Linked DNA regions of Homo sapiens: region 2 is linked to region 1. The links come from fine-mapping of genetic effects on gene expression. A gene starts in region 1. The other region holds a variant in brackets. All regions are shown on one strand. Distances are between the middles of the regions.

Region 1 (8,301 bases):
TCCAGCCTGGGTGATAGAGTGAGACTCCATCTCCAAAAAAAAAAAAAAAGTACTTATCACAGAGACATAACCATAAACTTAAGTTCTAATAGTACTGAAAGTTATTTTAAATAGAAATCTTTTACAAACATCACAATAGTGTCTTTTATAGAATGCCTAGACAAAACCCAGTTCTCTAATTATTTTCCTTATAGGAAATCTAGAAAAAACCTTCAGTAGAATGGTACTAGTATGACAAATTCAATATTATAGTCTCAGAAGTTCTTTCATTTTTAAAGGATAAAAAAAAAACCAAAAGAAAGTCAACATGGAGTCAGTGAAAAAATTCTACACCAGAAGCAAAGAGGTGCACTAGATCTACATGAAGAAAAGCACACCACTGAGAATTACTTACAATAAGAAAATGAAAAAAATCCAGAAAAATACTGTGCTCTCAGGGACATACAAAAAATTAAGAACTCAGGGTGGGGGAAAAAACAGTATTAAAGAGGACTGGGACTAAAAAAAAAAAGACTATAAGTTAAATAAAAACACAATAGAAATTTAAAATCCAAATTATAAGCAGTAAGGAAATCAGTGATGGAAGGGCCTAACTTAAGAAGCTATGCAAAAGAAAAAAGTTAGAAAGGATGTGTGAGATGACAGCAATGAGAACAAGAAAGGAGAGCCAACCAATGAAAAATTCCTGGAGAAAAAAACAAGAGCAAAACAAAAGGCACCAACTTAATATTTTCCTCAGCTAAAAAAAAAAAAAAAAAAAAAAAAAAAAAAAAAAAAAAAAGATTTCCACATCTAAAGGACCTGTTATCTTTTAGATAAAATTATTGGATTTAAAAAATCAGTAGCTATAACCCTAAACTTTGAAATATTTTAATCATTTTACATCTACAATGCAACAGATGGCTGTATTTGCTATGGAAAAGGCACATTTATCCAGTCAGGATGGTGTAAATCTGGTATTTTACTGCGTACCTTGATTATTTTGTATTTGGGTTTGGACATTAACTTGCTGAGGGCAGAAACAAGAACCTGAACTCATGCCTTAAGATAAAAATTGCATTCTTTTTATACACCTACTACATTTGAAACTATGCAGTGGCTCAATCATGGCTCACTGAAGCCTCAATCTCCCAGGCCCATGAGATGCTTCCACCTCAGCCTTCCAAGTAGCTGGGACCACAGGTGTGTGCTAGCACGCCCAACTAATTTTAAAGTTTTTTGTAGAGATGAGCTCTCCCTATGTTGTCCAGGCTGGTCTTGAACTCCTGAGCTCAACAGATCCTCCAGTCTCGGCCTCCCAAAGTGTTGGGATTACAGGCATGAGCCACTTCGCCCAGCCCACCCAAGCATTTTTATGGGCTCTGAAATGTACTACGTAAAAAGGACACGCTTTATTGGTTTAGAAAGTTAAGTATACATTATTATTATGATCAGCAGTAGGATAGCTATTTTATTTCCACCAGTCATTGATTAAAACAATCCAAGTGTAGTAGGTATTAATCAGTAGCTTAAGCTGGAAATAAAAATTTACTATGGGAACGACTACAGTGCTTTCAAATAACCGACATATGAAAAATTTACAGCTAACCTCTTCCAAAGAGCTGTCCATACTGCAGTCTCCAATGCTCTTCCTCCTGTTGTCTCTTGAAACCACACCAATCAGGTTTTCTTCCTCACTATTCTCCTGAAAGTGCTCTTGCAAGGTCACCAAGGACCTTCCTATTACTAAATCCAATGGTCATCTCCTAGTCTTCATCTTACTTGACTTGTCAATCAGCAGGAGGAGACACAGTTGGTCACTTTCTCCCTGAAAAACTCTTTACTTGGCCTTCAGTACTCCATACTCGCTTCTTTTTCCTCCTACCTTCAAAAGCCTCTCCTTTGTAATTATTCATCTCTCCAATATCTGAATGTGGAAAGCCCTAGAGCTCAATTCTCATTTCCTTACACTAGATCTCATAGGCTCATGGCTTTAAATACTACCCTTCTGTGCAGGGGTAGCCAATCTTTTGGCTTTCCTGGGCCACAGTGGAATAACTGTCTTGGGGCACACATATAACGATAGCTGATGAGCTTAAAAAAAAATACAATCAATCTCATAATGTTTTAAGTAAGTTTACAAATTTGGGTTGCACAAGCTTGCATTAGTGACTTCCCAAATTTCTATTTCCAGTTGGACCTTTCTCTTCAACTCCCGTCTCTATAACCCCACTTGAACAGGCATCTCAAACCTGACTAAAACTGGCTCCACCTACCTTCACACTCAGTCTTCTCCATCTCAGTACACTGTTTAACTAAAGCCTTCCAATAGCTCAGGCCAAAGGCCACAGGGTCGTGCTTCACCCTTTCTCTCATAAGCACATCCAAACCATAAGCAAATCCTATCAGCAATACTCAGAATACGACGGCTTCTTACTGCCTCTCTTACTACCCACCTGGTCTAAGCCACCATTCTCTCTGGCTTCAATTACTGCATCAACCTAACAGGTCTCCCTGCTTCCATCCTTGCCCTTACAGTCAACACTGAACACAGCAGCCAGAGTGATCCTTTAAAAACCTTAAGCCAGATCCCCTCATTCCTCTGCTCAAAACCCTCCAAACACCTCCCTTCTCACTCAGAGTAAAAGCAAAAGTCCTTACCTGGGCCCATTAGCTCTCTGACCTTGTCTCACCCTCCTTCCCTCCAGGTGCTCAAATCTACTGGCCTCCTTGCTGTTCCTCTCTTGCTGTCCCTCTAACAAGACTGAAGGGTTCTGGGCTTTTGCCCTTGCTTGGTATGCTCTTTCCCTAGACAGCTGCATGGCGGTCCCCAACGCCTTCAGTTTTGCTTGAGTCTTTTCCATGGCACCAGTCCTTATTTTAAAACTGCACCTGTTCCTTCCTTGGTGCTTCCTATCCCCCTTTGCTACTTTATTTTTATTCCTAGTAACTGTTACCATCTGACTCCAGATACGTTAACTTTCACAAATCCCGCTTATCGTCCCCAACCCCACCTTCCTCCAGTGACATGTTAGCTCCTGGAAGACAAGGACTTCATTTTGTTCACTCTCACATCCCCCAGTGCTTAGAACAGAGCCTGGCCATAGAAGGCACTCAATATACGCTTGCTATATGAATGCCGAATATGCAAATTCTTAAATCTATAATAGGTAAGGCTAAGAAGTTTGGGACTATAAAGCCCAACTTATTTCCACAATGGGAAATACAATTTCCCTTTTGATAAAGAACTGTGAGAATCCTTTGTTTTCCATAGTAACACAATTTATATAACATGCCAAAAATTCCTTATCACTTCACATCCTCTCTCCAGTGCCTTTCCTGTATTCTGTAAAATATTAACTTACTATCATCAAAAAATCTTTGATTTCCCTCTGGTACTGCTACCATAATAATGCAAAGGCAAAGTGAACTCACTAAAAAATGGTATGGAAACATAAATAATGAAGAAATGTAATAAAGTGTGTTAACAACCAAACAAATTCATCTCTATTTCAAATCAAATTGTACTGGCACAGTGAGAACCCCAGTCCAAGTTTAACTTTATTATCACTATAGTCCTTAATGAGCTAACAGTTTTCTTACTAAACTCCTTTTAAACTAAAAAGGAGTTCATGTAGGACTCCTGCATATAACCATGAAAACTAAGCCTGAGAGAAATCAGTTCAGGCTACAAATCTAATTGATAAAACTCTTAGACAGCGCTACATGTTTGGCTAGATAACAGACGCAGGGATACTGAAGTAAGGGAGATGAGACCAAATCTCGCTCAGCCTTTGCTAGCTTTCTGACCTTGGAGAAGTCAGACTCTCGGTGCCTCAGTTTCCTTATCTGTATAATGGAAATGGTACCTGATAGGGTTGCTTCAAGGATTAAAGGTACCAGGTATTTAAAGCAATGGCACCGTGTCTGACATAAAATAAGCACTGAAAATAGCTATTACTAGAACATAAAAATAATCCCCACACCACTCATATTACAGCTCTTTAAGAGGCTCCTAGGTACCACCGTCATTTTTTAAAGATTGAGAAGCGCTACTATTCAATGGCATATTTTTACCTTATTATGTTCTGTAGCCAATTCCGAATACCGTGGAACGTTACAAAAAACAGATGTTATTTTCTTGAGGTACTGTTGGGAAAACCTCAGAGAGAACGATCTGCTTTTTAGCACTGCAAGCCAATTAAGGGAGGAAGTTTGCGATTACCCGAGCCCTAAGTGGAAGGTGTGCAAATCCTTCCTTTTAACCCGGGCACCCCGGAGCCATGTGCCATTCTGGAGAGCTCACTCACACCCCAACAGCTTGTCCCGGCGCCTGAACTGTGCGCTCCTGCAAGCACACGCCGCGAAAGCACCGTCTCGCCCCGGCCGAGCAGCTGGACCTGCGGCGTGGCTTCCGCGCTCCACCCCCCGATTAACCGCGAGCCAGGGCTGCCCGCGCTGCCCAGGGGTTCCCCGGACCACAGCCCTAACCCGCAAGCGCAAACGAGAACCCTCGCAGGCCTCTGCCCGGCCCTCGTGAACACACAGACCGCGAAGAAGCCATCACGGACCCGCGGTCGCTTCCTCGGCCCGGCTCCCTCCAGTCGCCGCGGAAGGTGTGGGAAGCCCGGGCACCCTCGCCCCTCAGGGCCCCGGCCAGGCCTACTGGACCTCCAGTGCTACAGGGACGGTGCAGGAGATATCAAGTGGCTCTAGCCCAGGCGCTGCCCACAGGCCCCGGGCCAAGTACCTGCGACTCGAACGAGCAGCAGCGACAGCGGCAGCTTCAAGGAGGCGGTGACGGGCGGAGGGGAGGGGCCAGACAGGGGTAGTCGGAGTCCCCGCTGGGCCAGAGCGGTCTCGCGCTGCAGCCCCCGGCGCGCCCCCTGCAGGTGGGCGGTCCTCACGGTGGCTCGGGCTGCTCTGAGTCAGAGACTCCGGGAAAGCCTGCTCTGAATTAGGGAAAGCATCAAAACTGTGGCTTCAGAAGAGAAAGACAGCCTAGAAGAGGTTTATCCGATCTGAGTCCGGGAGCATTTTGCACTTTTCACGTCCTATTCTAAATTCACATCCCATCCCCTTAGCTAAATGGGGGCTTCAAAGGCAAGGGCAGTTTCATTAGGTGCTATAAGCATCAATTAATAGTTGCTGGCCTCTAGGTAGGTCTTCTATAGACCCGAAATTGACATATTAGGAATAGCCACTAATGATTGGCTGCACTATTTCTAAAATATAACCCTGCATTTTTACTTTTTTCAAAAGCAGTTTGAATCTTTTTTTTTTTTTTTTTTTTTAGACGGAGTCTCACTCTGTCGCCCAGGCTGGAGTGCAGTTGCTCAACCTCGGCTCACTGCAAACTCCAACTCCGCCTTCCGGGTTCAAGCGATTCGCAGTTTGAATCCTTCCATCCTACTTTGTAGGGTTCCTTGACTTATTGCAACATGTACAGCCAAGACTAACTAAAAGTGTGGTGGGACATTCATATGCTGGAAACATTCTTTCATGCAAAACTAGTTTTTTCTTTTTTTCATTTTACCAACTCCAGTCCTACAGCCAAGACAACTCTCACTGCACAGTGACCGTCCTCTGAATTCTAGCACCCTCATCCAACCAAGCCACGCTCTATGGCAAACTTGTCCAACCCCTGGCCCACACCTGCAGGCTGCATGCAGCCAAGACAGTTTAGAATGCAGCCCAACACAAATTAATAAACTCTCTTAAAACATTATGAGTTTTTTTTTTTTTGCAATTTTTTTTTAGCTCATCAACAATTGCTGGTGTTAGTGTATTTTATGTGTGGCCCAAGACAATTCTTCTTCCAATGTGGCCCAGGGAAGCCAAAAGATTGGACACCCCTGCTCTAGGGTATCTCATGGTTCATTCATTCAAGGACCACCTACACCATCTAATAATTTGTTCTTGAAAGTGTCATGTAAAGGTTTAGGACTATTGTCATATTAGAGGAAATCACTATTACATTTCTTTCATGTAAGAATTATAAGATCTGGCCATGCACGGTGGCTCACACCTGTAATCCCAGCACTTTGGGATGCTGGGGTGGACAGATCACTTGAGGTCAGGAGTTCGAGACCAGCCGGACCAACATGGTGAAACCTTGGCTCTACAAAAATACAAAAATTAGCCAGGCACGGTGTTGCACACCTGTAATCCCAGCTACTCAGGAGGCTGAGGCACAAGAATCCTTGAACCCCAAAAGGCGGAGGTCACAATGAGCCGAGATCTCACCACTGCACTCCAGCCTGGGTGACAGAACAAGACTCCATCTCAAAAAAAAAAAAGTTATAAGATCTTAGGGCATTTCACATTTTATTGTGCTATGACTAATCAGCAATATTACTTGTTAAATTGATGACATTTATTAATCAGTTTGTTATTGATGTCCTCCTTCTGGTTGTGTATTGAGTTTATAATATCTTCACTGATGCCTATAAACTATGACAAATTAGCAAGGAAATTAAAGCTTTTCCCAATGTATTAATAAGATTTACTCTTCATTAGTTGACTCATCCAACAATCTGAGAGCCTCTCCATTACTTCTATTCAAATTTATCTCTTCCTCTTCATGAATTACTGCTTTTGATTGATATGAAAAAATGTAGGGATGGTGAAGACAGCTTTTTTCTCTGATGAGATTAAAGTGAACTGCATGCTGCACATATTCTATGGCTCCTTCATGTTACCACACCTGGGCACTTTGACACAGTGGCTGTTAGGAGCTGATATGGTTTGGCTGTGTCCCTGCCCAAAATCTCATCTTGAATTATAATAATACCCATATGTCAAGGGCAGGACCAGGTGAAGATAATTGAATCATGGGGGCAGTTTCCCCTATGCTGTTCTCATGAGAGCGCGTGAGTTCTCATGAGATCTGATGGTTTTATAAGGGGCTTCTCCTTTTGCTCAGCACTCATTCTGTCTCCTACCACCCTGTCAAGAAGTGCCTTCTGCCATGATTGTAAGTTTCCTAAGGCTGCCCCAGCCATGCAGAATTGTGATTCAACTGTGAGTCAATCACACGTCTTTTCTTATAAATTACTCAGTCTTAGGTGTTTCTTCATAGCAGTGTGAGAATGGACTAATACAGGAGCATTTGCAGAAGCCATTCCTACTCTCCAGCAATAAGTTAATAGTGCATGGAAGTGACCACGAACCACATGAACGTCTCCCATTAAATGCAAACCAAAGTACCCCCAGCTGCATTTCTGTTTAGCTGGATCCCAAAAATGCCTGTAGTCACTCCAATGTTAGCCAGTAGAAGAATACTCCGGAAGTCTCAGTGGAAAGAGAGAAATCTTAATCAATTGTAGGTAAAGTATTTTAATTTTGCAAGCTTTACAAAAACATATAACCATATCAGCACTGCTTCCCAGGGCCTTGGAAGGGGCCTGAACAAGGGAGGGCTATATATTGGTTTCCTATTGTCATTGTAACAAATTACCCTAAATTTAATACTTTAAAACAAGGATTATTTTACAGTTCAAGAGGTGAGAAGTCCAAAATCAGTTTCGCTGAGCTAAAATCAAAGTGCGGGAAGTGCTTTCCTTCTGGAGATTCTCAGGGGAGTTGGTTGCCATGCCTTCTCCAGCTCCTAGAGGCCACCTACGTCCCTGGCTCATGGCTCCTTTTTCCATCCTCAAAGCTAGCAGTGTAGAGCATTTTTACACCCCTCTGACTTCTGCTTCTGTCCTTGCATTTCCTCTGTGACTCTCCTGTCTCCTTATAAGGACCCTTGTGATTATATTGGGCACACTTGGATAATCCAGAATAATCTCCCTATCTCAAGATCTTTCACTTAATCACATTTGCAAAGTTCTTTTTACCATGCAAAGCAACATATTCATAGATTCTGGGGATTAGGATTAGGATGTGGACATCTTTGAGGATCTGTTATCCAGCCTACCACAAGAGCCCTGAAGCTTAAACTTTACACTCTTCAGGTAAGTCTGCCTCTTCTTCCTCATTACTAAAATCTATCTGGTCCTGAGTTTTGATCGTGAGAGTTCCAATGGCGGAGGAATACCTGTAATTACAACCGAGATAAGTGTCATGAAGCGAAAGAGAAAGGATTCCTTGAGGGCAAACAATATGGGAGCTAATTTAGATAGAAGGGCAACAATGTCTTTGAATAAGTGATATTTAATCTAAGATGCAAAGCATGAGGAATTAATTATGTAATGAACAAGGGAAGTATTCTAGACAGAGGAGACGGTATGTTTGGCCTGTGAATCCTGATGGCAGAAAGCTATCACCTTCTGTGGCAGTGTCTCTACCACTGAATCCTTAGCACCACCACGGTGACTG
Region 2 (8,337 bases), 38 kb before region 1:
CAGTTGTGCGTGTTAAGAAACAAAAGTTCCTTGTCAGGGGTCTTCATAAAGAATGGTGCCAACAGCATCCTCAGTAGCTTTCCTTTATAGATCCAATGGTTAAATCCACAGAAGACAATTTTCACTTCAAGACAATTGCATCACAACTAAGTAGACAGGCATCACAGCAGGATGGTGACAAGAGACCCCGGTCCCATACTGCCTGAGTTCAAATCCCAGCTCTGCCGCTTACTGGCCGTGTTACCTTGGGCATGCTATTCAACCCTGCCTCAAATGCCTTAGTTTCTCTAATGGTGAGGTGGGGACAATAATAGCATTTGTGAAGATTGAGTTAATAAGTATAGCATTACCACTTATTAATGAAGAGCTCAGTAAAAGCAGTTGGGCTGGGCACTACTATTAGCACAGTTCAAGTACCCAGCTCTCCACTGACCTGACTTGAACTCAAGGCGGTTTCTACAACAGTGTGGTCCCAAAGAACTTCCTGTAAAAATGGAATCTTCTTTACCTTTGCTGCCCAAGAGTACCAGAAATGTGGCTAATAAAGAAATGAATTTCTAATGTAATTTAAACAGCCACAGGTGGCAAGTGGCTACTGCATTGGACAGCATATAGAAAATTTTCAACGTTGCCAAGTTTGATTGGACAGTGCTGCTCTAAAACATCCTCCAAGCAATATTCTCTAAATACTGTTATCAGCTAAGCTTTTAATGAGTGTTGGGTAGCAAGGAACTCCAGATTGTAGTCCTTGACATCTAAGGAGTGTGGCCAAATCTCTGTCCCCAGGTGAATGTAGACACCTATGCCTCTGGCTATGGAGCAGTCTGGTTGTGCTGTGAAAAGTCAAGAATGAGTGGCTGAACAGAATGCCAGCCTATGTGTGCTTTGAGGGGAGCCAAGGCCAAGATCCCCCCTTAGAAAATTGTTTTGAATCTACTTGGAGCACAAAGGAATTAACCTCATCCCAAAGTTCTATTTTAGCACAGCTGGAATTGCTTCGGCCTGAACAATTTTAAAGGTGTTTTAATCAGATACTGGCCTCATTTTCCCCAAATGTTCTATTAACTTTGGGAAAAGCTACTTCCTGGTGTTCACTCCAAGATAAACTATTTGGAAAAGGTACATCAAGATGACTACATAAGGCTGGGCGCAGTGGCTCACGCCTGTAATCCCAGCACTTTGGGAGGCCGAGGCAGGCAGATCACTTGAGGTCAGAAGTTCAAGAACAGCCTGGCCAACATGACGAAAACCCATCTCTACTAAAAATACAAAAATTAGCCAGGCATGGTAGTGCACACCTGTAATCCCAGCTCCTAGGGAGGCTGAGACAGGAGAATAGCTTGAACCTGGAAGGCGGAGGTTGTAGTGAGCCTAGGTCACACCACTGCACTCCAGCCTGGGTGAAAGAGTGAGACTCTGTCTTAAAAAAGATTAAATAAGCTAAGCTATAGAATGGCTCCCAGATAAGTAGGAGTTAACAACTGTCAAAATCAATAAAATGATTTCACATAAATTATGTAATAGAAACACAAAATAAAGGGAAAGAAATTTATAATAAAATGTATATTTCAATATGTAAATGCTCAGGCCCAGCTACATTAGAAGAAACAACGAAGTCATTACTATCTGTAATAGAATTATGTTGATGACTTAATTATAAGTAGCACTGCTGTCAATAACAAGATTTTTGAAAAGCGGTGCAATTCTTGATAAAGTTTTGAACAAAATGAAGTCGAATCTTCCCTTAATTATCTCGTGGTTGTATTCTTGGAAAATTCATGATACATTAAAACTATATACCAGGCCGGGTGGGGTGGCTCACGCCTGTAATCCCAGCACTTTGGGAGGCCGAGGCGGGTGGATCACGAGGTCAGGAGATCGAGACCATCCTGGCTAACATGGTGAAACCCCGTCTCTGCTAAAAAATACAAAAAATTAGCTGGGCGTGGTGGCACGCCCCTGTAATCCCAGCTACTCAGGAGGCTGAGGCAGGAGAATGGCGTGAACCCGGGAGGCAGAGCTTGCAGTGAGCCAAGATTGCACCACTGCACTCCAGCCTGGGCGACAGAGCGAGACTCTGTCTCAAAAAAAAAAAATAAATAAAATAAAAAAATAAAACTATACCAAATAATACCTTGTTTTAAAATGTGAAATGGTTGGGTTTTAGGTTCAGATATCTAAAATTGTTTGTTTTCTAAACACACGAATGTCCAGCAGAACATTCAAGAATCATGTGGGATTTAGAACAATCCTTTGTTAGACTAAACTGTCCCATGCACTGTGGGATGTAAAACAACTATGGTCCCTGCCCACTGATTGCCAGGAGTGGCCCTAATCACTTCTAAAACCATTAGTCCAAGCTCAACATATGAATTCTACCAACCCCACCCCTGCCAATGACTGGTTCATCAATCCAGGCCTAAGTCAACCTGTGTAAGGGTACTGGTTGGTTTGAGAATGGGGTACATGATATCATGTCAGCCAATGAAACAGCTTGTTTGCATCAAAGTTTCCTACGAGGGAGTCACAGGAAAGACGGTCTCTTCTCTATGTGGTGATAAATGGATGTGATGTCTAAAAATTCTGTACTCATTGCAGAACCAGCTGGAGGAAGCAGCCAACAAGGAGGGCAGGGCAAGAGCACAAGGGAACTGGGCTAAAGATTCTGGATGATGTCACCCTTGGGGTCAACCCTACCTTTTTATGTAAACGGGCTTTATGTAACTGGACTTTCAGTTACATAAACAAATACATTTCCTATGGGGTAAGCCGTTTTGAATTCGGATTTTGGTTCCTGCAGCTGAAAGCACTTTGATACATGCATAAACAATTTCACAAGTCAAAGACTGAGGCCTGGTTTTGAAATAAAAACATAGAAACCAAAACAGCAGCAGTGGCAGGTGAATATTGTTCCTGGGCTTCTACACGAAGTGGTAAACCTGTGGCAGGTGCTGCTGATCGGAAGCCTGCATGCTCCACAGGTGAGGGGGCTCCACACTGCCAGCCTGTATAGTTCGTTCATGAAGCTACAGGCGCACTGTGGAAGGAGGACCAAGCACAGCTCACACCTGCAGCTTGTTGCGGGGGATGCATAAAAGGCAAAGAGCTATTCAACCTGAAAAGAAAAAATATAGCTACAGGTATAAAAGCAATGCTATAAGTATTTGTGTACCAAGAGCTCTACAGGATGCTCTGTAGACAGATGGGGTTATAAAAATAGACTAAGTCCCTGCTCTCATGAAGCTTACAATTAAACAAGTTAGAAAGAAAATCATGTTTACAGAGAAACGGATCAAGGAATGCAAAATACAAGTAATAAAACTGAGTGTGGTAAGTGGTGGGGAAAGGAGGGGTTGGGAAGGAGGCAGTCAAGTACGGTTAACTATGGAAGACTTTCTGACAAGCCAGGGTTGGAGCTTGAATATTAAAGCTTCTACCACTGGGAAGATGTGTAAGAAAGGAAAAAAAGTAAGTATATAGGACCACGAGTGGAAAATTTAGTAATGTCCTGCTGAAATGGTATCAGGCGAGGTTCTGGATAAATATGGTTCCATTTCCAGATTCATGAAAGACAGCGGGACAGGAGGAAAGCACAAGCATAATTGGGGCTGGAGCCTCAATCTGGAATCCCTCTTCCACCAGGTCCTACCTGTTTGACCTTGGACAAGTTACTTAGCCATCCCTGTGTCCATTTTCTCATCTTATAAACTGGGGTCATGTAGTGCTCAAGGGGGCGTAGGGTAAAACTTGCATGCTAAAAACTTGCATAATTGGGAGGGGCTTAATTGTGGTAGTTATGATCATCACCCTTAAATCTACGAGCAATTCACTCAAATTAATTTCACAGTATTTATAAGGCAAACATATATGAAACTCAATATACCTAATACATTAGGTTTGAAAAAAAGCTGTGTTTTAAAAAGCAGCTAATTGCAATCCATTACAAAATCCCCAAATTAAAACTATAATACACTAAAAAAAAAAAAAAAAAAGAGAAATCGTGATTAAGGGATATATAAATACATTTATTGGTGGTATTCCTGAATGATGAATGCAGAGAACAGAATACAAAGAAATCAGCACATAAAAGGAACCATTAATCTTTAAAAATGCTATATACTTACATTTTGACCAATTTTGCATATTTGTTTAGATTTACAAACAAATGTAAAGCTAATTCCAAAGTTTTCTTCTGAATATACTTCAAATTTGAATTGTAGTGTTCTCCATTCCAAAGCCAGCTGTTTTTTGCTGGATTTACACCAACTATGATTTACTTTGTTTGTATCTAACCTAAAAGCAAGACTCTGCAAGCTGATCCTGAAGCAGCCAGTTACTCAGGAATTTTACAACAGCTATTAAAGAGAGGATAAAGCCACATGAAAGAGCAAGCCTCAATACTAGATACATAGATACAAGAGAAAATACCAAGAAGCAAAAAGAATCACAGAAATACCAATTCTATTCTAAAGCATAATTTCTAATTCTAGCAGCAATTCAATTAGCAATAGCTTAGGTGCCTTTATTCCAAAAAACAAAACCATTAGTTCTTTCACTACAATTTCCTGACTTTACCCAATAAATAATTATCAAGCCTTCATATTCTTTTTTAACCACTCAAGAACATAATTCATACATTACAGAATCATTAACAAAAGAGGCCTTCAAACATACTGCTGAAAGCTGCAATATAGTTTGAGGGCCAGATTTCAATTTACATAATATTACCATTCATAAAGAGTTTATGACACCCAGTACGATACTGTCCAGCACTGTTAACTCAGAAATGCTCCATCCATTCTTGCCATCAGAGAATTACAGATATGGATGGGATTGTTAAAAGTCTAACAGGGCCTCCAAATAGGATTGCAC[A/G]TGAAATAATTATGAACTATGATAAAACTGTGACAACACAGCTAGCTTATAGAACTGAGTTTTTCACTATAATAGCACTACAGAATTATGACAGTTAAATATCAGAATTATTTTTCCCTGCTAACTATTCAGTAGAAAAAGGATTTTCTGACTGTAATTCTGATGAACTGTTATCTTTGATGACTAGGATACTCGGGAAAATTGGAAAGTGAACAAAATGAACTCATTTATTTTTCACAGATATTAACAAGCAAAGCAGTTTACAAAAAGATCAAAAATTATCCTAAAAACAAATAAATATAAGATCAAATCAATTATCTTTGAACAAAATATAGCTCATTTTCAAAAGTTTTGTTTGGTTTGTGACTAGACTTAAAAATACTAAAATAAGCCAAATAGATGCTAACAATACTAATTTGCACACAAGATTTGAAAAAAGTACTTCAAGTTTTATCTCTTATCCCTAGAGAAAGTAAATAAAAAGTGGCTCTTGCAAAAATAAATGAAAACAAAACCACCAACAAAAACTAATCATATAAGATACTGTTTTTCTTTTTGAATACTTCAATTGGTCCTATATTAGGATAAGGTTTTGATAGCAAGGACTTCCTAGCTTCTTCCTTTATCTTCCATTCTCTAGTCACTTCCGTGTTTTTATCAAACAAGGCTACGTGTAGGCTTTCCTACAAAGTCAGGTTGAGTCAGAGGTAGCGTTAGGATGCAATATACTTGATCATAGTATGTAGTTAGTTCAAATGAACACATCATTATCTAAAAGGATTACAATAATTAAAAATGCAAAAAGAACATGTACTGCCCTCACTGCTTTGCGCTAAGAAAAATTCTGAGAAACTGAGAACAAACATTGGAAGCCAGGAAACAGGCAATTAATTGCCTCATCTTCCATGAGCTCCTTTAATGCACCAGTTCAGGCTGGTTTTCCACGAAGGGTAGCACCCCACTCACATAATAAGCAATGCCAAGAGACAGCAAAGCAATGACGAAGATCAACAGCAATACTCTCCAGAAGCCCAGATCCTCCACAAACTCCTGCCACGTGGTTCGGAAGCTGGAGAGGACTCCTTCACCTTGCTGCAGGTTGGGATTGAGGAGTGAATGGCTTTCCATGGCACTGTGGAAGAAGAAAGAGCAAAAAGGGCATTAAAAAAACACAGCAATTCCAAAAACATAAAACCACAGGGCTACTATTTAGAAAAGACCAAATACACACACACACACACACACACACACACACACACACACACATATATATATATACACACTCTTACATGCTTACGTATCTGAACAATATATACTAAACTGTAAATTGCTAAATGGTAATGAGTATGTTTCTCTTGGTTTAGAATTTAGTAAACTCAAGTTAAAAATTCTATTTAAAAGGTCCTGGCTGGGCGTGGTAGCTCATGCCTGTAATCCCGACACTTTTGCAGGCCAAGGAGGGAGGATCACTTGAGCCCAGGAGTTCGGGACCAGCCTGGGTAACATAGCGAGACACCATCTCTATTTTTTTTTAAGGTGTCCTGAGCAGAAGTCTTGAAATAGGTTATGAGTTGTCTCCATCAAGATATTAAACCACAACACATTCTTGTTATGTTAAATTTAGAAGATTCAAAGTGCAGACTCATAATTTAAGAATGTGTTAATACGAATAAGCAGACATGCAGGTGATGACACCTGAAGAGGACAGTCATCTACAAGTCAAGCAGAGAGGCCTTAGAAGAAACCAACTTTGTGACACCTTGATCTCAGACTTCTAGGCCCTAGAACTGAGAAAGTAAATGTCTGTTGGGGGGAGGGGGGAAGATGAGTAAATCTAAAAAGTCACTTATACAGTGTGTGTGAATCTTGAAGTTAAAAGGGAATTTTTATTAATTTAGTTCAATAATCTGACCAATGAAGGAATTCCTTCTTTAATTGTAATTCTCTAATAATGGAAGGTTACTCCTCAGCCTGTTGTACATGTGGACTCGTCTAGTCATCAGAAATTCTTTTTTTTTTTTGGAGACAGAATCTCACTCTGCCGCCCAGGCTGGAATACAGTGATGCGATCTCAGCTCACTGAAACCTCCACCTCCCCAGCTCAAGCAATCCTCCTGCCTCAGCCCCCCAGGTAGCTGGGACTACAGGTGCATGCCACCATGGCTGGCTAATTTTTGTATTTTTGGTAGAGACAGGGTTTCGCCATGTTGCCCAGGCTGGTCTTGAACTCCTGAGTTTAGGTGATCCACCTGCCTTGACCTCCCAAAGTGCTGGGATTACAGGCATGAGCCACCACAGCTGGCCTAGTCATTAGGAATTCTTAATAGTTTCTTCCTATTGGTGTTAGTTCTATCTTGTACAGTAAGACAGAATATGTTCATTTCTCTTCTGCATAAAGGCTAGTCTAGTTGAAAATAAGGTAGTGCAAATACCATAAAAACACTGATTCTGGTTTTCAGAACTTTATCAATGAGAAATACGACTACCACAAAGAGAAACTGCATCTGACTTTGGTACTTGGAAGCACTAAGGGAAGAGCACTCATGGTTATATCACAACATACAGGCCCAATAAGAGGGTATCATTTAGATTAAAGCCACCATAACCATGATCATAGGAATCAACTATCTACTGGTTATCAAAGTTCATTACTATCCTTCCTAACTCCCATAAAACAGTATCTTAGAGTCTCATTCATTATGAACTATGAATAAACATGCAAAACTGACATTTTTTAACCTACAACTTTATTTTACTTCTTGATACCATCAAACAAAAGTCCTTCAGCCTTTACCAACATTAGAGGTCTTCTCTGATCATGGGAAACTGACTTCCTAATGGGCCAGTCTGCTTAACACCCAAACTTTTTTTTTTTTAATAATTAAAACATGTTTATTCTCTGAATAAGAGATGATGTTTTCAGTGGGAATCTACAACACCACAGTAATTTTGGAACACTTGACAGCAAGTTTAAAAATAAGATTAGAACTTTGAGAAGGCCTAAAAGAGTAAAACCACAAATAGATAACACAGTTCTGCAGAGGCTTAGTTTGACCTATGTAAAATTTATTGATTACGAGTTGACATGCCCTTATACATGTTAGGTATAAAATGAAAATTCCATGAGCATTCTCATTGTTCTTCAGAGCTCATGAAGCTCTGCCAATCGGGATATTCTATAAAGACTTTATCCAATGAAATGCTTTCTACTGTCCAGGGAATATCTGATTCTAACATAATGGGGTGTGTGTATAATCTTTTTTTAAAAACGTGATATCTACACTGTCTTTGGGGGGTGTGTTTGCATGTATCTTTTTTAAAAAATGTGATAGCTATACTGTTTTTGTTATCCCATACCTACAAAGTAAAAAGGAATTAAACTTAGAGTTATATGGAGGAGTGGGGAAATATTTTTCATTAACTTGATTTATAGTCCCTTATAAGGCCTGCAGAAGTTGTGCTGTC

Alleles and levels. Positions count from the first base shown, and alleles are read on the strand shown. Sizes are in standard deviations (SD) of each study's normalised expression.
In carriers of allele G in region 2, the expression in esophagus muscle of the gene that starts at base 4,778 in region 1 tends to be higher than with A alone (small effect, 0.20 SD a copy in GTEx).

What was found.
Region 2: its variant is fine-mapped to the expression of ANKRD46 in esophagus muscle (GTEx, PIP above 0.99).

Annotation. Positions count from the first base shown.
Region 1 is chr8:100,554,982-100,563,282 of GRCh38, forward strand. ANKRD46 (ankyrin repeat domain 46) reads right to left here and starts at 4,778. Exons shown (of 5, transcript NM_001270377.2): 1 at 4,730-4,778. RefSeq lists enhancers at 4,680-4,974, 4,942-5,081 and a silencer at 4,772-4,941.
Region 2 is chr8:100,516,768-100,525,104 of GRCh38, forward strand. It overlaps ANKRD46 (ankyrin repeat domain 46), which reads right to left. Exons shown (of 5, transcript NM_001270377.2): 5 at 4,005-6,004. The coding sequence ends at 5,788. Among named protein-coding and RNA genes, the nearest start is that of ANKRD46, 39 kb to the right of the region's middle. The variant A/G (reference allele first, on the strand shown) is at 4,873.